3 linked regions of the Homo sapiens genome follow. The protein of the gene in region 1 interacts with the protein of each later gene in a pairwise test. Each region holds a gene or a part of one and is shown on either strand. Other genes may lie near its edges.

Region 1 (7,035 bases):
TAATAGAATTCTCCTAGCCTGGGAAACAAAGTAAGACCCCATTTCTGCCAAAAAAAAAATTAGTAGGGCATGGTAGCATGCACCTGTAGTCCCAGCTTTGGGAAGCTGAGGCAGGTAGATCAGTTGAGCCCAGGAATTCAAGGCTGCAGTGAGCTATGATTGTATCACTACGTTCTAACCTGGGCGACAGAGCAAGAACTTGTCTCAAAAAAAAACCAAAAAAAACTTCATACTATATATTAATACAATTTATTTTTCCTTTACCAAACCACTTTAAAATTGCTTTTAGCACATGCATGATGAAATATTTTCTTAAAGTGCTTTTCTTGTAAAACATTTATTTATTTTTTAAGACGGGGTATTACCATGTTGCCTAGGCTGCTCTCGAATTCCTGGGCTCAAGCTATCTGCCCACTTTGGCCTCTCATAGTGCTGGGATTACAGTAGGTGTGAACCACTGTGCCTGACCAAAATGTTTCTTTCTAATATTTAAATATGTCTTATATACCAGCAAATATGATGACTTGCTCAAGAATTGTAATGAGAGCTAAAATCAACATCTGACTCTTCATCAGTAATCTTTTCAGAGGATAAGGAAAACAAAATAGATGGCTTGCTAGGGTAATAGGATTCCCTTTTCTTTCTCTTTTAGTCTGCGCATTTTTTTCTTTTTTATTTATTTATTTATTTATTTATTTTTTTATTGATCATTCTTGGGTGTTTCTCGCAGAGGGGGATTTGGCAGGGTCATAGGACAATAGTGGAGGGAAGGTCAGCAGATAAACAAGTGAACAAAGGTCTCTGGTTTTCCTAGGCAGAGGACCCTGCGGCCTTCCGCAGTGTTTGTGTCCCTGGGTACTTGAGATTAGGGAGTGGTGATGACTCTTAAGGAGCATGCTGCCTTCAAGCATCTGTTTAACAAAGCACATCTTGCACCGCCCTTAATCCATTTAACCCTGAGTGGACACAGCACATGTTTCAGAGAGCACAGGATTGGGGGTAAGGTCATAGATCAACAGGATCCCAAGGCAGAAGAATTTTTCTTAGTACAGAACAAAATGAAAAGTCTCCCATGTCTACTTCTTTCTACACAGACACAGCAGCCATCCGATTTCTCAATCTTTTCCCCACCTTTCCCCCTTTTCTATTCCACAAAACTGCCATTGTCATCATGGCCCATTCTCAATGAGCTGTTGGGTACACCTCCCAGACAGGGTGGTGGCCGGGCAGAGGGGCTCCTCACTTCCCAGTAGGGGCGGCCGGGCAGAGGCGCCCATCACCTCGCGGACGGGGCGGCTGGCCGGGCGGGGGGCTGACCCCCCCACCTCCCTCCAGGACGGGACGGCTGGCCGGGCGGGGGGCTGGACCACCCCACCTCCCTCCCGGACGGGGCGGCTGGCCGGGCGGGGGGCTGACCCCCCCACCTCCCTCCTGGACGGGGCGGCTGGCTGGGCGGGGGGCTGACCCCCCACCTCCCTCCCCGACAGGGTGGCTGCCGGGCGGAGACGCTCCTCACTTCCCAGATGGGGTGGCTGCCGGGCGGAGGGGCTCCTCACTTCTCAGACAGGGAGGCTGCCGGGCGGAGGGTCTCCTCACTTCTCAAGATGGGGCAGCCGGGCAGAGACGCTCCTCACCTCCCAGGCAGGGTCGCGGCCGGGCAGAGGCGCTCCTCACATCCCAGACGGGGCGGCAGGGCAGAGGCGTTCCCCACATCTCAGACCATGGGAGGCCGGGCAGAGACGCTCCTCACTTCCTAGATGGGATGGCGGCCGGGAAGAGGCGCTCCTCACTTCCTAGATGGGATGGCGGGCGGGCAGAGACGCTCCTCACTTTCCAGACTGGGCAGCCAGGCAGAGGGGCTCCTCACATCCCAGACGATGGGTGGCCAGGCAGAGACGCTCCTCACTTCCCAGACGGGGTGGCGGCTGGGCAGAGGCTGTAATCTCGGCACTTTGGGAGGCCAAGGCAGGCGGCTGGGAGGTGGAGGTTGTAGCGAGCCAAGATCATGCCACTGCACTCCAGCCTGGGCACCATTGAGCACTGAGTGAACGAGACGAGACTCCGTCTGCAATCCCGGCACCCTGGGAGGCCGAGGCTGGTGGATCACTCGCGGTTAGGAGCTGGAGACCAGCCCAGCCAACACAGCGAAACCCCGTCTCCACCAAAAAAATATGAAAACCTGTCAAGTGTGGCGGCGCGTGCCTGCAATCGCAGGCACTCGGCAGGCTGAGGCAGGAGAATCAGGCAGGGAGGTTGCAGTGAGCCGAGATGGCAGCAGTACAGTCCAGCTTTGGCTTGGCATCAGAGGGAGACCGTGGAAAGAGAGGGAGAGGGAGACCGTGGGGAGAGGAGGGAGAGGGAGAGGGCGCATTTTTTTCATTAACTTTCTTTTTTAATATAAGCAAAAGACAAACCTTGATTTTAGTTCTATGAACAATTTGTTTAGTAAGGCCCCAGTCAACTTGATTATTTTTCAACAACTGTGAATTTATATAATGATAGCCATTTTACATGATTTGTAGTTTTAAATGTTTAAATGTTAATCAGATTAGTTAGCTCTTTTTGTGTTTATTAGGGGTAAATTACCTTTCTCTTCTGAAGCGACAATTATACATCCATGATTGCTTTGACCAGAATATACGAGGGTATCCGCAATCCAGCATGTAATTAAATTACAATCTGAGTTACCCTTTCTTGAATGTGACATTCTTTCCGTCTCATTCCTATTACAATGTAATTTTCACCCTGACTTAGGTGTTAGGAATGCTTCAGAGACTAGTTATTTTTTATTTCTTATATGATTTTTTATTCTTACCCATATTGTGTTTTTCCCCACCCCTAGTACTTACAACCTTTTATTCTGTGGTTCTTGTGGGATTCCCGTTGGTTTCCATCTGTATTCTACCCATGCTGCCCTGGCTGCCTTGAGAGGTCACTTCTGCCTTTCCAGTGACAAAATGGTGTGGTGAGTAGACTTAGATATTGATCATCAAATACATTTTATTTTATTTATTTTGAGACAAAGTCCATCAAATAAATTTTAAAAGGTTTTTCAGGAAAGACAAAGTAGGCTGAGCACAGTGGCTTATGCCTGTAATCCCAGCACTTTAGGAGGCTGAGGCGGTGGATCACTCGAGGTCAGGAGTTTGAGACCAGCCTGGCTAACATGGTGAAACCCATCTCTACGAAAAATACAAAAATTAGCCAGGTGTAGTGGTAGACGCCTGTAATCCCAGCTACTCAGGAGGCTGAGGCACGAGAATTGTTGGAACCTGGGAGGCAGAGGCTGCAGTGAGCTGAGATCACGCCACTGTGAGATCACGCCACTGCACTCCAGCCTGGGAGACATAGTGAGATTCTGTCCAAAGGAAAAAAAAAAAAAAGTAGCTGGGCATGCTAGTGCACACCTGTAATCCCAGCTACTTGGGAGGCTGCGGCAAGAGAATTGCTTCAACCTGAGAGGTGGAGGTTGCACAGTGAGCTGAGATTGCACCACTACACTCCAGCCTGGGTGACAGAACAAGACTCTGTCTCAAAAAAAAAAAAAAGAAAAAAGACAAAGTGTTTGTACCAAAAAGATGCTAAAGTCAGGCACTGTCTTTGACAAAAAGATAGCAGTGGGCCAGGTGTGATGGCTCGCGCCTGTAATGCCAATGCTTTGTGAGGCCAAGGTGGGAGGACTGCTTGAGGGCAGGAGTTCAAGACCTCCATGGGCAATATAGTGAGACTCCTGTTTTTTTTTTATACAAAATTTTAAAAAATTAGCTGGATGTGGCGGCGTGCCCCTATAGTCCCAGTTACTTGGGAGGCTGAGGTGGGAGGATCACCTGAGCCCAGGAGTTCAAGGTTACATTTTGCTGTGATCATACCACTGCATTCCACTTTGGGTGACAAAAAAAAAAAAAAGCAGTGGGACCAAAATATAATCTTATAACATTATGATTATCTTCCATGTCTTATCATACCATATCTTAAAAGTCATACCATGGGAAAATTCAGAGGGTATTCTTTCATTAAAGAAACTTGTTGCCAGATGTGGTGGTGTGTGCCTGTAATTCTAGCTACCCAGGAGGCTGAGGCAGGAGGATCACTTGAATCTTGGTGTTTGAGACCAGCCTAGGCAACATGGTGAAGCCTCCCATCTCAAACTGCTCCCTTATGGGCCGGGTGCAGTGGCTCACGCCTGTAATCCCAGCACTTTGGGAGGCTGAGGTCGGGGGTTCACCTGAGGTCAGGAGTTCGAGACCAGCTTGGCCAACATGGTGGAACCCCATCTCCATTTAAAATACGAAAATAAGCCAAGTGTGGTGGCACACGCCTGTGGTCGCAGCTACTCGGGAGGTGAGGCAGAAGAATTGCTTGAACCCAGGAGGCGGAGGTTGCAGTGAGCCAAGATCAAGCCACTGCACTTCAGCCTGGGTGACAGAGCTAGACTCTGTCTCAGAAAAAATAAAAATAAATAAAAGATAAAAAGAACATTCTAGAAGGCAAGCTTTTGCAAAATAATGTTGCAGTAGATACCTTTTGGGTTTGTGCCCAGCCTCTCTCTCCCTCTAATAGGTGGGGCCTTGTATATTTGTATCATGTGTGATTTGTATCATGTGTGATTCCCACTCCCAGGTACTGGATCAAGAATGAATACCTGGCCAGGCATGGTGGGTCATGCCTGTAATCTCAGCACTTTGGAAGGCTGAGTTGGAGGATTGTTTGAGCTTAGGAGTTTGAGACCAGCCTAGGCAACATAGCAAGACTCTGTCTCTACAAAAAATTTAAAATATTAACTGTGTATGGTGGTGTATGCCTGTAGTCCTAGCTACTCTGGAGGCTAAGGTGGGAGGATAGCTACAGCCCAGGAGTTCAAGGTTACAGTGAGCTATGATTGTGTCACTGTATTCTAGCATGGGGAGCAGAGCAAGACCCTGTCTCTTAAAAACCAAAAACGGTGCTGGGCGTGGTAGCTCACGCCTGTAACCCCAGTACTTTGGGAGGCCGAGGTGGGCAGATCATGAGGTCAGGAGATCGAGATCATCCTGGCCAACATGGGAAACCCCGTCTCTACTAAAAATACAAAAAAAATTAGCTGGGCATGGTGGCGCATGCCTGTAATCCTAGCTACTTGGGAGGCTGAGGCAGGAGAATCACTTGAACCGGGGAGTCAGAGGTTGCAGTGAACCAAGATCGCGCCACTGCACTCCAGCCTGGCAACAGAGCGAGACTCTGTCTCAAAAAAAAAAAAAAAAAGAAAAATGGATACCTGACCCAAACTAAGCCAACCAGTTTTCTACCTTAGGAATTTGAAACAAGGGCCCAGAAATACCAGTTACGTGTAGATAGTACTAGTGTTGAAGTTTGGAAGTGAAAGCTCTATGTATGGGATAGCTATTTCCCATGTGATGCATGTAGCTGCAGGGAAGTCTTCTCTGCAGTAAAACATGAAGCAGACACAGAGAAAAGTAAAAATAATGATCATGTAGCCTCATAGTGTCAGAAAAACTACCCTACTGGTTATCCTTTCTCATGAATTACATTGGCTATTTCATTATTTTCCTAATAAATTGCACTTTTAACTTAAGCTTTTTTACTTATTACAAGAAACTGAAACATCCTTAGAAGTCTTTCCTTGACCATTAAAAAACAAAAACAAGCATTGACAACCTAGTTTATGTAGGCATTATGCTTATATCACTGAGTTCTTAATATAGTTTAAGAAAACTAGGGCTCAAAGAGGTGGAAGAGCTGAGATTTGAGCATGTCTTAACTCAAAAGCTTATTTTCCTTTCATAAAACTAAAAGGTTTCCTTTTTCTCATGTCTTTTTTTTTTTTTTTTTTTTTGAGATGGAGTCTTGCTGTGGCGCCCAGGCTGGAGTGCAGTGACGTGATCTTGGTTCACTGTAAGCTTCACCCCCTGGGTTCACACCATTCTCCTGCCTCAGCCTCCCAAGTAGCTGGAACTACAGGCGCCCACCACCACGCTTGGCTAATTTTTTGTATTTTTAGTAGAGACGGGGTTTCACTGTGTTAGCCAGGATGGTCTCGATCTCCTTGACCTCGTGATCCGCCCGCCTTGGCCTCCTAAGGTGCTGGGATTACAGGCATGAGCCACCGCGCCCGGCCGCTTTTTCTCATTTCTTATGCTTAGATAGATGTTTTTAGCTGAGTTATGGTTGACTAAACAATAAAACTTATCAGCCAGTCCTTTACCATGGGTTGCTCACTGTGCATTAGGTATACCATTTGTTCTTCATTGCAAATTTCCAACACAAAATATATACCTGAGATCCTGAGATGGATTGATCATTCTCTTTTTTTAAAGACGGAGTCTCACTCTGTCACCCAGGCTGGAAGTGCAATGGCATGATCTCAGCTCACTGCAACCTGCACCTCCTGGGTTCAAGTGATTCTCCTGCCTGGGCTTCCCAAAATGTTAAGATTACAGGCATTAATCACCATGCCCAGCCTCAATTTTTAGATTCTTTTTTTTTTTCTTTGAGACGGAGTCTTGCTCTTTCGCCCAGGCTGGAGCTGGAGTGCAGTGGCACCATCTCGGCTCACTGCAAGCTCCGCCTCCCAGGTTCACGCCATTGTCCTGCCTCAGCCTCCCGAGTAGCTGGGACTACAGGCGCCCGCCACCATGTCTGGCTAATTTTTTTGTATTTTTAGTAGAGACGGGGTTTTACCGTGTTAGCCAGCATGGTCTTGATCTCCTGCCTTGGCCACCTAAAGTGCTGGGATTACAGGTGTGAGCCACTGCGCCACCAATTTCTAGATTCTTAAGCAATTTCTATTTAGAATTAACTTTAAAGTGGGAAAAAAAACTGTAAATGTGTGCTGTTAGTAATCCCACATCTTTTTTAGAAATCAGTACAAAAGTAAATGTTCTAGAGAAGCAATAATTGCATTTTTGTTAGGGCAGTAAGCTTTTAGTAACATATTTTTAACATAAATTTGAAAAGCATTATGGGATTTTGGTTAATTTCTTAATCTTTAAAATGAGTTGGATAAAAGGTCAGGACATTCTTTTTGATTAAGTAGAA
Region 2 (7,035 bases), on another chromosome or scaffold:
CCTGGAAGCTTTGCCCCACACACTCCCCACACCCAAGCAGGATAAGTGCTCGTCTGGGAAGCACTGAGTATTTCTCCCAGTAATACGTATCACATAGTACCGTCATTCATTCCTTAGCTGTCAGCCTTTCTCTATAGACCCAGAGCTCCGAGCAGGTAGAGGCAGTGGCCATCCTGGTCAGTGTCCACGTGTGGCATCTGGAACAGTGCCCAGCACTTGGGAAGCCAAACTGAGTGAACAGAGCTGGATAAGCCAGGAGGCCACTGCTCTCATTCAGGGGAGAGATGACTGTGTCATGGGAAAGGAATTCGAAAGATATAACAACTGAGCTTCTTAATTTCTCTCTAGTCACCATTCAAAACACTGAATGAAATGCTTTCCAAGTCAATTATGTTATGAAAATTCAACAGTAAATCTGATCTGTTGAGTGATGTCCACAAAAGCTCACATCCCTGTGGAAAGTCAGAAAGGATCATGGTTTGAGCCCTTTTACAAGCAAAAATTAGGCATAATTCTAGGCCACATAGAAACTGCCACCTCATTGGGATAACAAGTTTACCTTCTTTTGTTTTCAGAATAATTCTGCAAAGCCTCAAAGCAGAGGATGGAAACATTTCAAATCCTGCTGACATAGTCTGCATCTTTGCTTTGATTTTTAAATATGATTCCAAGCAGGCAGATAATGTTGTGACCCAATTACGGGGTATTTTGGAAGTAGTAGGCACCCAACTTGGGAGTGGAGCTGGTGGGTGTAAAGGGAAGAGTTACTAAGCAAGCACTACCACCTGCCTCTCAATCCTTCACGGGATTTTACAGAGAAGGGAGCTATGGCAATCAGGAAGTAATGCAACATCTCCCCTGACCCGCTTCCCATTTTCTCACCATTCCCAAAATAGACAGAGCTAAGGAAAATCATAAATATAATTCTCAGCCCTCTAGGGAAAAGCTCATTAAGGGCATAAATTTGGGTCCCTGGGAAAAAAGGGATGAAAGGCAAAGCTATTAAAAATCTCAAGAGATGAGACAATGGGAAATAAAGCCAACGGACAAAAAGGAACTAGAAAAACACAAAAACTATGGCCATTTCCTACACCAAAGCATACTTACAGGTAGGGCTACAAGCTCAACTGCCCTGGATACTCTAAACTCAAGCTCTTTAGAGTCAAAAGGTAAAGTTTTTGTTTAAAACTAAAAATAAAAATACTCGTTAAGTAAGGTCTTATCTCACATCAAGTATTGTTCTCTGCCCTTATACATTCACTGATGAAATCTTCACAACAATCATATTATATAAGCACAATTAGTATTCCTATTTGCAGATGAGCAAACTGAGCACTGTGTAATTCTGTTGTCAAAGTACAATTCTGTTGCCCTTTGTCATATGGCTATTAAATTGCAGAGCAGCACTGGGACTTGACCACTAAACCCCTGCTGCCTCCTTCTAGGGCTATCCTTGCACATGTTGTAGGATATTTAGTAGCATTCTTAGCCTCTTCCTACTAGATGCCAGTAGTTATCCCTCCACAGTCACCATGACCAAAATGTCACTGCCAAATGTTCCCCAGTGAGCAAAACTGTCCTGCTTAAGAACTACTGCCACAGAGATTTGAAAGGCCAAATCCCGAGTTCCCTTACAAAAGGAGTAGCAAATCCTGGGTGGTAGGCAGGAATAAAATTGAGTTAAGGAAAGATGACAAAGGAAGCAGCTGAAGGGTTTGCTGTAGTGGGAATTTTACATGAGGAGTCACTAGCCACAGCTCTTGCCACTCTCGCAGGATTAGGACAGCCTTCCTTCCCCTCCACTCCCATCACACACATGCCTCTACTGCAGCACCCTATAACCAATGTTCTGGTACATTCCTCTCTGTCCTCCTGAACTTAGCACAGTGCCAGGCACAAACTATGTACTCAATAAGCATTTGCTGAACAAAGGAAGGAACAAATGAAGCCGAGGTTTCTGGATGTCACCAAATGAATGTCTCTCTTCACCAGTGTCCTGGAAAAGGTATACACAGACCTTGGTTCTTGGAGAGGACAAGAGGTTCTGATCAGATAATCTGAAGAATCTGAGTCTGAATCAATGCTTCCCAAGGTGTCTCTACACCCAAATCATGCCTCTGCTGTGTTCAAAATTTGCAATGTGGTATATGATCATTTCTTGAAATGTCAAGGAAATTTTAACGGTATTAGTTCCCCCAGGAATGAAACAACTCAAGAAACCTAACTCATGCTAAGGAAATTCTGATTTATTCACTTCCACTGACAAACAATACCACCTAGCAAATTGTGATACTCAATGTGGCAGGTCGACTCTTGCCCAGGACAGAAGTCTACCTGAGAAACAGAAGGAAGATCAGAAGGTAAGAACAGAGCCAGCACCAAAGAGCAAGCAGGATGCTGCCAGGGAGAGGACCCATACCTGTAATCCCAGCACTTTGAGAGGCTGAGGCGGGCAGATCACTTGAGGTCAGGAGTTCGAGACCTGCTTGGCCAAAGTGGTGAAACCCCAGCCTCTACTAAAAATACAAAAATTAGCCGGATACAGTGGCGGGCACCTGTAGTTCCAACTACTTGGGTAGCTGAGGCAGGAAAACTGCTTGAACCTGGAAGGTGGAGGTTGCAGTGAGCCGAGATTAAGCCACTGCATTCCAGCCTGGGCGACCAAGTGAGACTCCGTCTCAAAAAAAAAAAAAAAAAAAAAAAAAAAGGAAATAATTTGTTGTTATTGTTTTGACACTCCTTCTTCACCCCACAATAGCAACCAAAACTAAAGGTGAATAACAGCAATTCCATGAGCAAATCATTCTGAAGCTTCCTCCAGCAATTCAAGGCTCACCCTGGAGGGAATGATACTGCAGAGGTCTGGGCCAAGCTGGCTATTACACAATTCTAGGTTCTATGGCTTTCACCCATCACCATTTCCTAGAATCACTAACTAAGAATTGCTAAAGAGTGTTGTTTTGCCAGAAAGAGGCCTGCATGCAAAGAATCAAATGTCAAGATACATCTTGAGGTTCACCTGCTGAAATTCACACTTCAACCACTTGCCCATTCTGTTCCCTTACACCCTCATCTTTCATCTTGGTGCTTTCCTTGTCATTCTCAAGCTATAATTCAAAAATAGTCACTGGCTCCTAGGGCACTTTCAAAATTAGCTCATTCACAGTTCCTAGGACCTTGGGTGACTCTATATTCCTGGAAAGCCCAGGGGCCCCATCAGCTGACCCACAAACTCCACATGTTGGCCTGGCCTCCATGACTCAACTCAATCCCAAGGGCAGGCCTCCCTGCATCTCAGGCCCAGATTCCCAGACTTACCAATTTCATGGACCATTCAGCGGCTAGATAAAAATATTCCTATCAAATCATAAAAGAATCTTACCCAAAAATGAGAAAGGCATAGTATCAGAGAAAAGGACATATCTTCTTATTTGAACAATTATGACATATTCACTACATCATTATCATCATTGTGATAAGAACAGTGAAAACCACTAACCAACAATAAATGACCTGTGGGGCTAACATTATGCTCTGCATATAGGAGATACTCATTTACTTTTATATTGTGTGGAAACTGAGCTCTGACTTACACGACAGGGACACATCCCATACCTCCAGTAATGCCAGGCCTTCCTTCTTCAACAATGGCATTTCCCTTTACCCTCTGGAATTCCGCAAAGTCTCTCCAATCTATCTCACCCTCTTAAACACACGTTTTTCCTTCTACCTCGATTCCAATATTCTGCATTCTTTTTTTTGAGACAGAGTCTCGCCCTTTCACCCAGGCTGGAGTGCAGTGGCGCGGTCTCAGCTCACAGCAACCTCCACCTCCTGGGTTCAAGCGATTCTCCTGCCTCAGCCTCCTGAGTAGCTGAAATTACAGGCGTGTGCCACCATGCCCGGCTAATTTTTGTATTTTTAGCAGAGACGGGGTTTCACCATGTTGGCCAGGCTGGTCTCAAACTCCCGACCTCAAGTGAGCCACCTGCCTTGGCCTCCGAAAGTGCTAGGATTACAGGCATGAGCCACTGCTCCCGGTTTCTGCATTCTTTTTCATCAACTTAAAAAAAACGACACTCTTCCTCCCACTCTAAGCATTCCTGAAGCATACTTGCCAATGAGTTACACTTCGGGAACTTCAGTTATTACCTAGCAAACAAAGTTTGCAAGATTTCCACAAGAGGAAAAGAGAGGGTAGAACTGGTAAACTTTGTTTATAACCACTGTCAAGTCATTAACCAACAACAAAGAAAAGCTTTAATCCATCCTTTTCTATACCATTCATTTCTTTCCATGTTCTCTTCTCGTATTTGTCCATGTGAATCTGTACATTTTATATATCAATAAATTATATATTGGGATTTTTCTCTGATTATAAAATAAATATACGTCCATTACAGAAAACAAGATAAGATTCAAACACCATGGAAATAAATTATATAGAAAGGGAATATCTCCTGTAACTCTACACACAAAGAGCTCTAATACCTTTAAACTGATCAAGCTTCTTACTTCCTGCCCAGTTGTGTGACTTGACCTTCCACCCTCTATGCCCTTCCTCTCTCCCAGCTCTCATCTAATGTCTGGAGTTAATGACCCACTCCTAACAGGGGTCCAGGAACCCTGGAGCCTGGTTATTAGAGGAACTAGAGTCACTCTCCCTTTATTAAAAATTATTTCAATGGGATAACAACTCCTCACTGACTCACTTAAAGGTTAATGAGGCTGAGTTTTGTGAGCCTCTTGAAAGCAAAATGCACTAAAAACACCAAATGGGATTGGTTTCCTTTGCTCTCTGCCCCATCGCAGCTTGCCAAGAAAAAAGAAAAAAAAGCTCATGATCCTGCTAATGACACTGAGTAGACACATTTCACCAGCCACCACTCCTGCTACTGCAGCAGCCAATCACAGGCATCTGTCCAACACAGTGACAGGGCTAACGTCAAATGAGAGTGAAAGTCGTATTCCAGAGACCAAGGGCTGCATTTCTCATCGAGGCGAGGAGACAAAGGCTGGGACACAGGAAAGGCTTGCCAAAATTTCACAAGGGTGGGCCTGGGAAGCAAAGCACAGGACCCCCTCCCCTGCAGCCTAGGTAGAGGTTTCTTTCTCAGACTATCTGTGTGCTCAAGAGCAGAAAGTCTCCCCGCAGAAAATGCTATGAAGTAGTTTCAAATGTCGAATACACTTTACCCAAATCTAATCATTACCTTATCTGCTAACTAGACTGGCAGGGCCATAAAGTTAATTTTATGACAACCATTTTATAACAAATGAAAACTATAAGGGAAGTAGGAATTGGGCAAAAAAAGAAGGGCATTGGACAAAGCAGTGACAAACCAGACAGGGAAACACAAAATCACCTCCAAATAATGCTCTAAACCAGTGGTCTCCAGACAGCGTTCATGGAAGACAATTTTTCCACGGATGGGGTTGGGGATTGGGATGAAACTGTTCCAACTCAGATCAACAAGCAGTAGATTCTCATAGGGAGTGCACAACCAAGATCCCACACATGTGCAGTTCACAACAGGGTTCACAGTCCTGTGAGAATCAAATGCCACCACTGATCTGACAGAGGTGGAGCTCAGGTGGTAAAGGTCACTTGCCCGCCGCTCACCTCCTGCTCTATGGCCCGGTTCCTAATAGGCCACTGACCAGTTCAGGTCCGAAGCAGGGGGCTGGGGACCCCTGCTCTTAAACGAAGACCTCTCTCCTCGAATGGCTGCATCACAGATCTCTAGACTGGGACAAGAAGGACCCGATAGACAACCAGAGGGTGACTGCAGCTCTCTCATTTTACAGATGGGAAAACAGGCCCAGAGACATAACTGACTTTTTCCAGGTAACACAGTGAATTGAAGTAAGGGACAAGCCAGCCCCAAAGGCAAGTCTTTGGGGTCCCTGGTTAGTAGTCTTTCCTCCAAATCCCCCCAGACCCTTTATTATGGAGAGTCTGTTACTCTGCCTCTGACAAACCATTTCGGCTGAGAGAAATGCCGTCAACACATATCAGCATGCAGAATATGCACTAATAACACATTAAAATCAAAATGGCTAATCTGGGTTTATCTTCTGACATCTAATTTCATTTGTTGGTAGTGCAACATTATTGAAAATAAATGAACACAAAACAGTTTTAAAATCTGGATAGAACCTTCTTGAAAACATTCAAATCATTCTGAAGATATGCAGTTCCAATCAAATTTAATTCTAAATAACAAATCAAAGATGCTTTAAAAGAGAATGCTTACTGAATAATAATGGAATCAATTAAAGATATTTTCATATAAGATAAAAGTTTAAAGCTCTATTGCTGTGAAATCACGAGCATCTACCTTTTCAGAGGGGTTTTCTTAGACAGCTGACATTTATGCATAGATGCTTACAGCATAAGATGATATATACAAAACCTTAATAGGATAATAGGACACATAAAAAGCACTGAACAGACCAGGCGTGATGGCTCACGCCTGTAATCCCAGCACTTTGGGAGACCGAGACTGGTGGACCTCCTGAGGTCAGGACTTGGAGACCAGCCTGGCCAACATGGTGAAACCCCATTTCTACTAAAATTACAAAAATTAGCCAGGCGTGGTGGCGGGCACCTGGAATCCCAGCTACTCAGGAGGCTGAGGCAGGAGAATTACTTGAACCTGGGAGGTGGAGGTTACAGTGAGCCAAGATCGCGCCACTACACTCCAGCCTGGGTGACAGACTGAAACTCTGTCTCAAAAATAATAATAATAATAATAATACTAGGCACTGAACAAATGCTGGTTTCCTAACCCCATGTAGGAAAATAAGTATTCCCCCCATAACCAGTAATAACTTATTACAATATTTTCCTAAAAGTCTGTCCCACCTGCTCCCCTCCCCCGCCCCCGGAAAACTTAAGGTGTTATATCACAAGGGTATTGTCCAGTTTTGTTTTGTTATTTATTTACTTATTTATTTATTTTATTTATGTATTTATTTTGAGACGGAGTCTCACCCTTTTGCCCAGGCTGGAGTGCAGTGGCGCGATCTTGG
Region 3 (7,035 bases), on another chromosome or scaffold:
TTCTAGCTTTATTAAGGCTTTTTTCCTTTTCTGCCTCCCGTAGAAGGGGGACTGTTTTATTCTTGCAAGTACAGTACCTGCACGAGAAGTCTGCTTTTTAAGTCATGTGTGGCTCTTCTACATGTATACTGATGGCTGAAGCCACAGAGGGACACTGGAGTGATTTACTTATCAGACGGTTTTTGTCCTGGTTTTGCTTTCAGGTATAGTAGAGTGCAATGGAGGAGTGGCCGAAGAGGATGAAGTGGAGGTCATCCTTGCACAGGAGCCTGCGGCTGATCAGGAAGTGCCAAGGGATGCTGTCTTGCCTGAGCAGTCCCCAGGAGACTTTGACTTTAATGAGTTCTTTAACCTTGATAAGGTGCCATGCTTGGCTTCGGTGAGTGTAGCAGCACACTTAAAAAATGTGTGGTTAAATTTGACCTGAGTATTTAAGACATCGGTTTGAAAGTGTTGTTTTGCTAGATGCTTTTGGGGTTTTTGGCTTTTATTCTTACATATTTAAATTTTTGTTGGCTTTGTTTTGAGAGGCTTAATGGATAATATGAGATTTTTGTACCAGTTAACTCTTTTTTAAGCTGGTGGTGTTAGACTAAAAATTCTTTTTTTGTTGTTTTTTTTTTTTTGAGTTGGAATCTTACTCTGTCACCCAGGCTGAAGTGCAGTGGCACGATCTTGGCTCATTGCAACCTCCGTCTCCTGGGTTCAAGCGATTCTTCTGCCTCAGCCTCCTGAGTAGTTGGGATCACAGGTGTGTGCCACCATGCCCAGCTAATTTTTGTATTTTTAGTAGAGATGGGGTTTCACTATGTTGGCCAGACGGGTCTTGAACTCCTGACCTTGTGATCCTCCTGTCTTGGTCTCCCAAAGTGCTGGGATTACAGGCGTGAGCCACCGCACCTGGCTTTTTAAAGTTATTTTTAGAATTCCTGTTTATCACTAAGATGCTTATATTTTGGATACACTCCCCAATTTTTCACAGTGATGTATCATGCTTATCTTATATTTTAATTAATACAAAATTAGTGCACTTAAAAGTCAGCATTATTTAAGGTATGAGCATCTACAGGTGGAATGTGATTGAAATTGTCTAGATAATTCCTCTGAAAATAGAAATTCTGGAAACAATAATTAGGGTCTTGAATTAAAATCCCTTCAAAAGAAGTATATTGTGGCTTAATTTGGGTATGGATTATGAAAACATTCTTCCAGATAAGAACAAAGAATAAATCTAAGCTTCCCCTGCTTAACTTTGGAAACTGTGGGTTCCAGATTTCAAATAAAACAGTCACTAATTCTGTCATCCATGTACCAGTTTTTGAAAAAGCATGTTTTCTGTTTATCAGTGGGATTGACGTGAAAGTATATGACTTATTTTCAAGGATATGTCTGATTTTTGGATAGATGTTTGCTCTATCTTGTCTTTTCTAAATATTGATAAGAATACTGCAAAAAATCAATTTGGATATTTGACTGAATTTATGGTATGATTTGAATTGAAAAATTTTTTAAATGCTTAAATCTAGTTTTTAAGAAAGATTGGCACTATTTCATAATTTCTACCAAAGCAATTTATTGTTCATAGTGTGTTATTTAATTGTCCTTATTAAATGTAAACTATGGAGGTTGGATTTGGAAACAGAAAACACCTGAAAACTCTCTATTAATCTCAAACAGAAATTAGAGATCAGTTGAAATTTCATCTTCCACAATCATACTTTTTCTAAACTTTGACTTGGAATTACAGTCTTTATGAGCTCTGCTTTTTTAGCCTTTGGCTTCTGAAACTCTCAAGATTGAATTTCATAATGTTCATTACAACCTTGAAACCACTAAGTTTGAAGCAATGGTTTTCTTTCATCAGTTCCCCATACTTGATATTTAGTTGAAGGTCACTCATCAGCTTGTCAGTGGAATGCTGTGGCATTGACACTGTTCTCTGAGAACATTTGGTAGTACGTGGATTTACTCCTGAGGCAAAGGATAGAAACCCAAAAACCTTTTTGTAGCATAGAGGCTTTGCTTTATATTCTTAGAAAGTAGTGGTGGTTCATGCCTGTAATCCCAGCACTTTGGGAGGCCAAGGCAGGTGGATCATTTGAGGTCAGAAGTTCGAGACAAGCCTGGCCAACATGGTAAAAACCCATCTCTACTAAAAATAAAATTAAAAATAGCCAGGCATATGGTGGCGTATGCCTGTAGTCCCAGCTACTCGAGAGCCTGAGGCATAAGAATCACTTGAACCTGGGAGGCAGAGGTTGCAGTGAGCCAAGATTGCACCCCTGCACTTCAGCCTGGGCAACAGAGCGAGACTGTCTTAAAAAAATAGTAGACCGGGTGTGGTGGCTCATGCTTGTAATCCCAGCACTTTGGGAGGCCAAGGCGGGCGGATCACAAGGTCAGGAGATCGAGACCATCCTGGCTAACACGGTAAAACCCCGTCTCTACTAAAAATACAAAAAATTAGCCGGGCGTGGTGGCAGGCGCCTGTAGTCCCAGCTACTCAGGAGGCTGAGGCAGGAGAATGGTGTGAACCCGGGAGGCGGAGCTTGCAGTGAGCCGAGATCGTGCCACTGCACTCCAGCCTGGGTGACAGAGCGAGACTCTGTCTCAAAAAAAAAAAAAAAAAAGTAATAAAAAATAAAAAAGGAAAGTAAGTAGATGGTTATACTCAAGTTTGGGTTATTCAGAAATTACCCAGGATGGAGGAAGAAAAAGGTGTTCAAATTCCTAGGTTCTGAGAGTATTTATCTTCAGGTCACGAGCATGAAAGGAAGTTTCAAAGTAAGTGACCCTTTCATAAGATTTAAACCTTCTTGTCCTTTTTCATCTAGAAACTATTAGTTTTTATTGTCTTTTTCTTCAGATGATAGAAGATGTTTTGGGAGAAGGGTCAGTCTCTGCCAGTCGGTTCAGTAGGTGGTTCTCTAACCCGAGCAGATCAGGAAGCCGATCCAGCAGTCTTGGGTCAACACCACATGAAGAGCTAGAGAGACTTGCAGGTAAAATGGCTTCAGATTCTGCCCTTGAAGGTAAACCTGGGTTTTTCCCTGATATGGTTCATTTTATCTTCATTAGTCAGGAGTCAATTAGGGTCAAAGGGTCTCTGGACAACTGAAAAGCCTTCAATTTGTGTCCTTTTAATATTGTTGAAGGGGCCGGGTGCAGTGGCTCACGCCTGTAATCCCAGCACTTTGGGAGGCCAAGGCAGGCAGATCACAAGGTTAGGAGTTTGAGACCAGCCTGGCCAACATGGTGAAACCCCCATCTCTACTAAAAATACAAAAATCAGCCAGGCGTGGTGGCGGGCATCTGTAGTCCCAGCTACTCAGGAGGCTGAGGCAGGAGAATCGCTTGAAACTGGCAGGCGGAGGTTGCAGTGAGCCGAGATTGCGCCACTGCACTCCAGCCTGGGCGAAAAAGCGAAACTCCATCTCAAAGAAAAAAAAAAAAAAAAAGAAAGAAAGAAAAATACTGTCGAAGGCATGTTTCTTTACTGGAACAGATTAATTTTGAGTATGTTTATTTGCAATATCAGGTCTGGAGCAAGCCATCCTCTCTCCTGGACAGAACTCGGGGAATTACTTTGCTCCTATACCATTGGAAGACCATGCTGAAAATAAAGTGGATATTTTAGAAATGCTACAGAAAGCCAAAGTGGATTTGAAACCTCTTCTTTCCAGCCTTTCTGCAAATAAAGAAAAACTTAAAGAAAGCTGTAAGTGTTTATGAATATCTGTTTTAGATATCTGAAAAGGTCTAGATGTTCAGTCTTCAGGCAGTTGGGTCTAACATAACCTCTGTTTCATAAAAAGTCAAATATATATTGGGTTTTTGTTTAATGTTCTTTTTTAAAAACTCATTTCATCAAACAATACCACCTCTTTGAGAATCTCACAGTGGGTCATGAGCCCTATGAGAACTTTTCCTGTAAGTTCTTACCTAGGGTCTGGTTGTAATAATCCAGTGAATGTTGAAAACAAACTCCAGTGAATGTTTTATTCCTCCAGAGCATAACTTACCATTTCCTCACAAATCTGCCCTAGTCTTCCATGTTCTTGCTTAGGCTATAAATTCTCAACATAAAAACTTAGTGATATAATGACCACGGTGCAGGCAGCAATCTTGGCAATGTTGGGCTATCTGGGATTCTTGTCCCAGGTAACAAGTCTCCCAGAAGACTCATATCCTTCTGCAGGATGCACAGCAGGAGCTTGTCAAGTTTTAAAGAATAGCACTTCATAGTTGTGGTCCCCCAGTTTCTAGCATCTAAACATTTTAGGTTTAGTTTATGCCATCTCTTAGTACACAATTTGATTTTAAGTGTTATTAGTTTATTTTTGGTGTCAGTCTTTTCTGACAGTCTCATCTCAATTTTGAAATAAATTATTTTCATCTTATCTGTCATACTAGCCAAAGAGAATTCCTACCAGATATCTCTTTGCTTGATTTAACCTGGACGTTCTCAACTTCTCAGCACATTCAGGGGTTGTGCTTTCAGTGGAGGAGGTAGAAGCAGGTCTGAAGGGCTTGAAGGTTGACCAGCAAGTGAAGAATTCAACTCCCTTCATGGCAGAACACCTAGAAGAGACCTTGAGTGCCGTAACCAACAATCGACAACTGAAGAAAGACGGAGACATGACTGCGTTCAACAAGCTAGTGAGCACAATGAAGGCAAGTGGGACTTTGCCTTCTCAGCCCAAAGTCAGCGTAAGTATCTGACACAAACCCCCCACCCTTTTCTCCTTTTTTTTTCTTCTTTTTCCCACCACAATAAAAGGATTTTTAAAAAGGTATTCTGAGTAAGTTGGAAATTCTTTAGTAGTCATTTGGTCCTTGATGCTTTTGTGTGTTCCTTAATTATTGATATGCTATTTGTTACTGGAAAAAGCAGGCTTGTGGTTAATTTATATGTATTGTGGGTGACAGTATAAAGATTAAAAGATTCAGTCTTAATGGTAATGCCTGTATAACTTTAAGTCACTGCTAAAATGAGGTATAAAACTATCTTTTTGGATGAACTCCAGAGACAATTTTCTTGTTATTCAGCTACTTAAGTTCATATTCTTTACCATATTTGTATAGTAAAATCTTTATTCACATCTTCTAATTATTCCCAGATACCAGGGATTACCTGCATTCTTGCAGTCATACAAATCATTTGTAAAGTATCTAAGATGGGGCTGAGCACAGTGGCTCACGCGTGTAATCCCAGCACTTTGGGAGGCTGAGGCAGGCAGATCACCTGAAGTCAGGAGTTTGAGACCAGCCTGGCCAACATGGTGAAACGCCATCTCTACTAAAAATAAAAATTAGCCAGGCGTGGGGGCATGCGCCTGTAATCTCAGCTACTTGGGAGGCCAAGACAAGAGAACTGCTTGAACCTGGGAAATGAAAGTTGCAGTGAGCCGAGGTCACGCCACTGCACTCCAGGCTGGGCAACAGAGTGAGACTGTCTCCAAAAAAAAAAAAAAAAAGTAAGATGGGTTTGTCAGGATAATTACATTCTGTCAATTTACTAATGGAAAAAGTTGTGGCTCCAAGTTAAAAACAAAACTTGTAGGCATGAAGTTAGGTTACAAGGTGACACAACTGCATATCACCTTGTAAATGCAAATGTTTATAATATACTGGTTCTTTGTCCTAACAATTTTGAGAGGGTAGTTCTTACCCATAGCCTATGTGTTAATATCACTATCTCTTGATACAAACTAATGTGGAAGCAGGGTAGATATGAATAATAAAAACATAAACATGGACTTATTCTAGTTGCTAAGTTATAGCAAATTTACCAAATTGAGTTTTCTCTCTTTTTTTCCTGTTCCCTGCTTGCCTGGGAACTTACCAGTTAGCCAAGATGCAAGTAGCAATAGCTGTTTGAATCATTATGTCTTATACCAAAAGAAAGCAACTGACTTTTAGCATTCCTTATCTGACCAATAGGACAGACAGAGGTTCCATTATTCCTTAGTGCCAGGACTGACCTACACTTGAAAGGAGGCACCTCAGATAGGTAGACTGACTTCTTTGTATCTGACCACACCATACCAGTTGCAGGAGAATGTCCCTGTAAAACTGCTTTAGAGTTACTTTTATACAAAGAATTATTAGATACAAATGCTTTCAAATGAAGATCAGACTGAAAGATGGTAGACTATCCTATTTTCCTTTCTCGTTACATTTGTGTCTTGGTGATTGGGTGCTGACTGCAATGGTGTGGTTCATATCTTATAATTAGCTTCTTTCTTTTGGTGTGAGCAACTAAAAATATGGAAGGGGGCATTCAGCAGTTTACCTGATGTTTTTCCACATTTTATTGCAGATATGATTCTAGGATTTGATATTAACACAATTTACTCGAGTTGTAAGGGCAGTTGGTTTGATGTTGGGGTTTTAGCACTCAGAAGTGTATCTGGTTTTAGCTGAGCAAATGAGCCTCAAACACCTGCCAAACGGATGGATGACACATTCAAGTGGCTAGGCAAAGGCTAAGACAAACTCAGCTAGCAGGAAAGAATACAACAAGGAAAGTAATGGAGTAAGAATAGCAGGTGTTATCTCAAAATATTGCTCAATTTGCATGTTGTTAAGTCATGGTTTACTTTTTGAATTCGGTGTCTTTAATTACTACTGCTGTGTATGTTTTGTATACTATTTCTGATCTGCCTCCATCCATTTAGGTTGTCATATTGGTTCATCCAAAAATAATACATGCTGGTTCAATCTAAATTCTGTTTTAAATTATAGATTCTATCCTCCAAGTATAATAAGCCATGCAGTATAAAGTTGTCTATTTGTTTTTATTAGATGGAAGTAAATGACTCTTAAAGAGATTACTTATAAAATCATCTGCCTTTAGTCCCAGTTCCAAAATCAACAATAAAATACTTGGGTATTCTTGAGCTATTTGTCATGCCTAGACACTGCTTTGGACTTTGACAGCTCCATCTAGTGGAAGGGAAACTACACCAGAGAAAGCACTTCACACAGAGCTAAATGGGCATAGGGATGTCCTGAAATGCAGGAGGGGACTCC

What was found.
Region 2: the proteins of OIP5 (region 1) and APBB2 interact in binary tests that used the Homo sapiens proteins (3 or more experiments, as listed by UniProt).
Region 3: the proteins of OIP5 (region 1) and EIF4ENIF1 interact in binary tests that used the Homo sapiens proteins (3 or more experiments, as listed by UniProt).

The regions. Positions count from the first base shown.
Region 1 is NC_000015.10:41,315,588-41,322,622, reverse strand, and holds part of OIP5 (protein Mis18-beta), read left to right. Parts: intron 1-2,842; coding exon 2,843-2,965; intron 2,966-7,035. UniProt on the Homo sapiens protein: Required for recruitment of CENPA to centromeres and normal chromosome segregation during mitosis.
Region 2 is NC_000004.12:41,204,519-41,211,553, forward strand, and holds part of APBB2 (amyloid beta precursor protein binding family B member 2), read right to left. Parts: intron 1-7,035. UniProt on the Homo sapiens protein: Plays a role in the maintenance of lens transparency, and may also play a role in muscle cell strength. Involved in hippocampal neurite branching and neuromuscular junction formation, as a result plays a role in spatial memory functioning.
Region 3 is NC_000022.11:31,451,819-31,458,853, reverse strand, and holds part of EIF4ENIF1 (eukaryotic translation initiation factor 4E transporter), read left to right. Parts: intron 1-203; coding exon 204-379; intron 380-2,866; coding exon 2,867-3,002; intron 3,003-3,538; coding exon 3,539-3,718; intron 3,719-4,477; coding exon 4,478-4,710; intron 4,711-7,035. UniProt on the Homo sapiens protein: EIF4E-binding protein that regulates translation and stability of mRNAs in processing bodies (P-bodies). Plays a key role in P-bodies to coordinate the storage of translationally inactive mRNAs in the cytoplasm and prevent their degradation.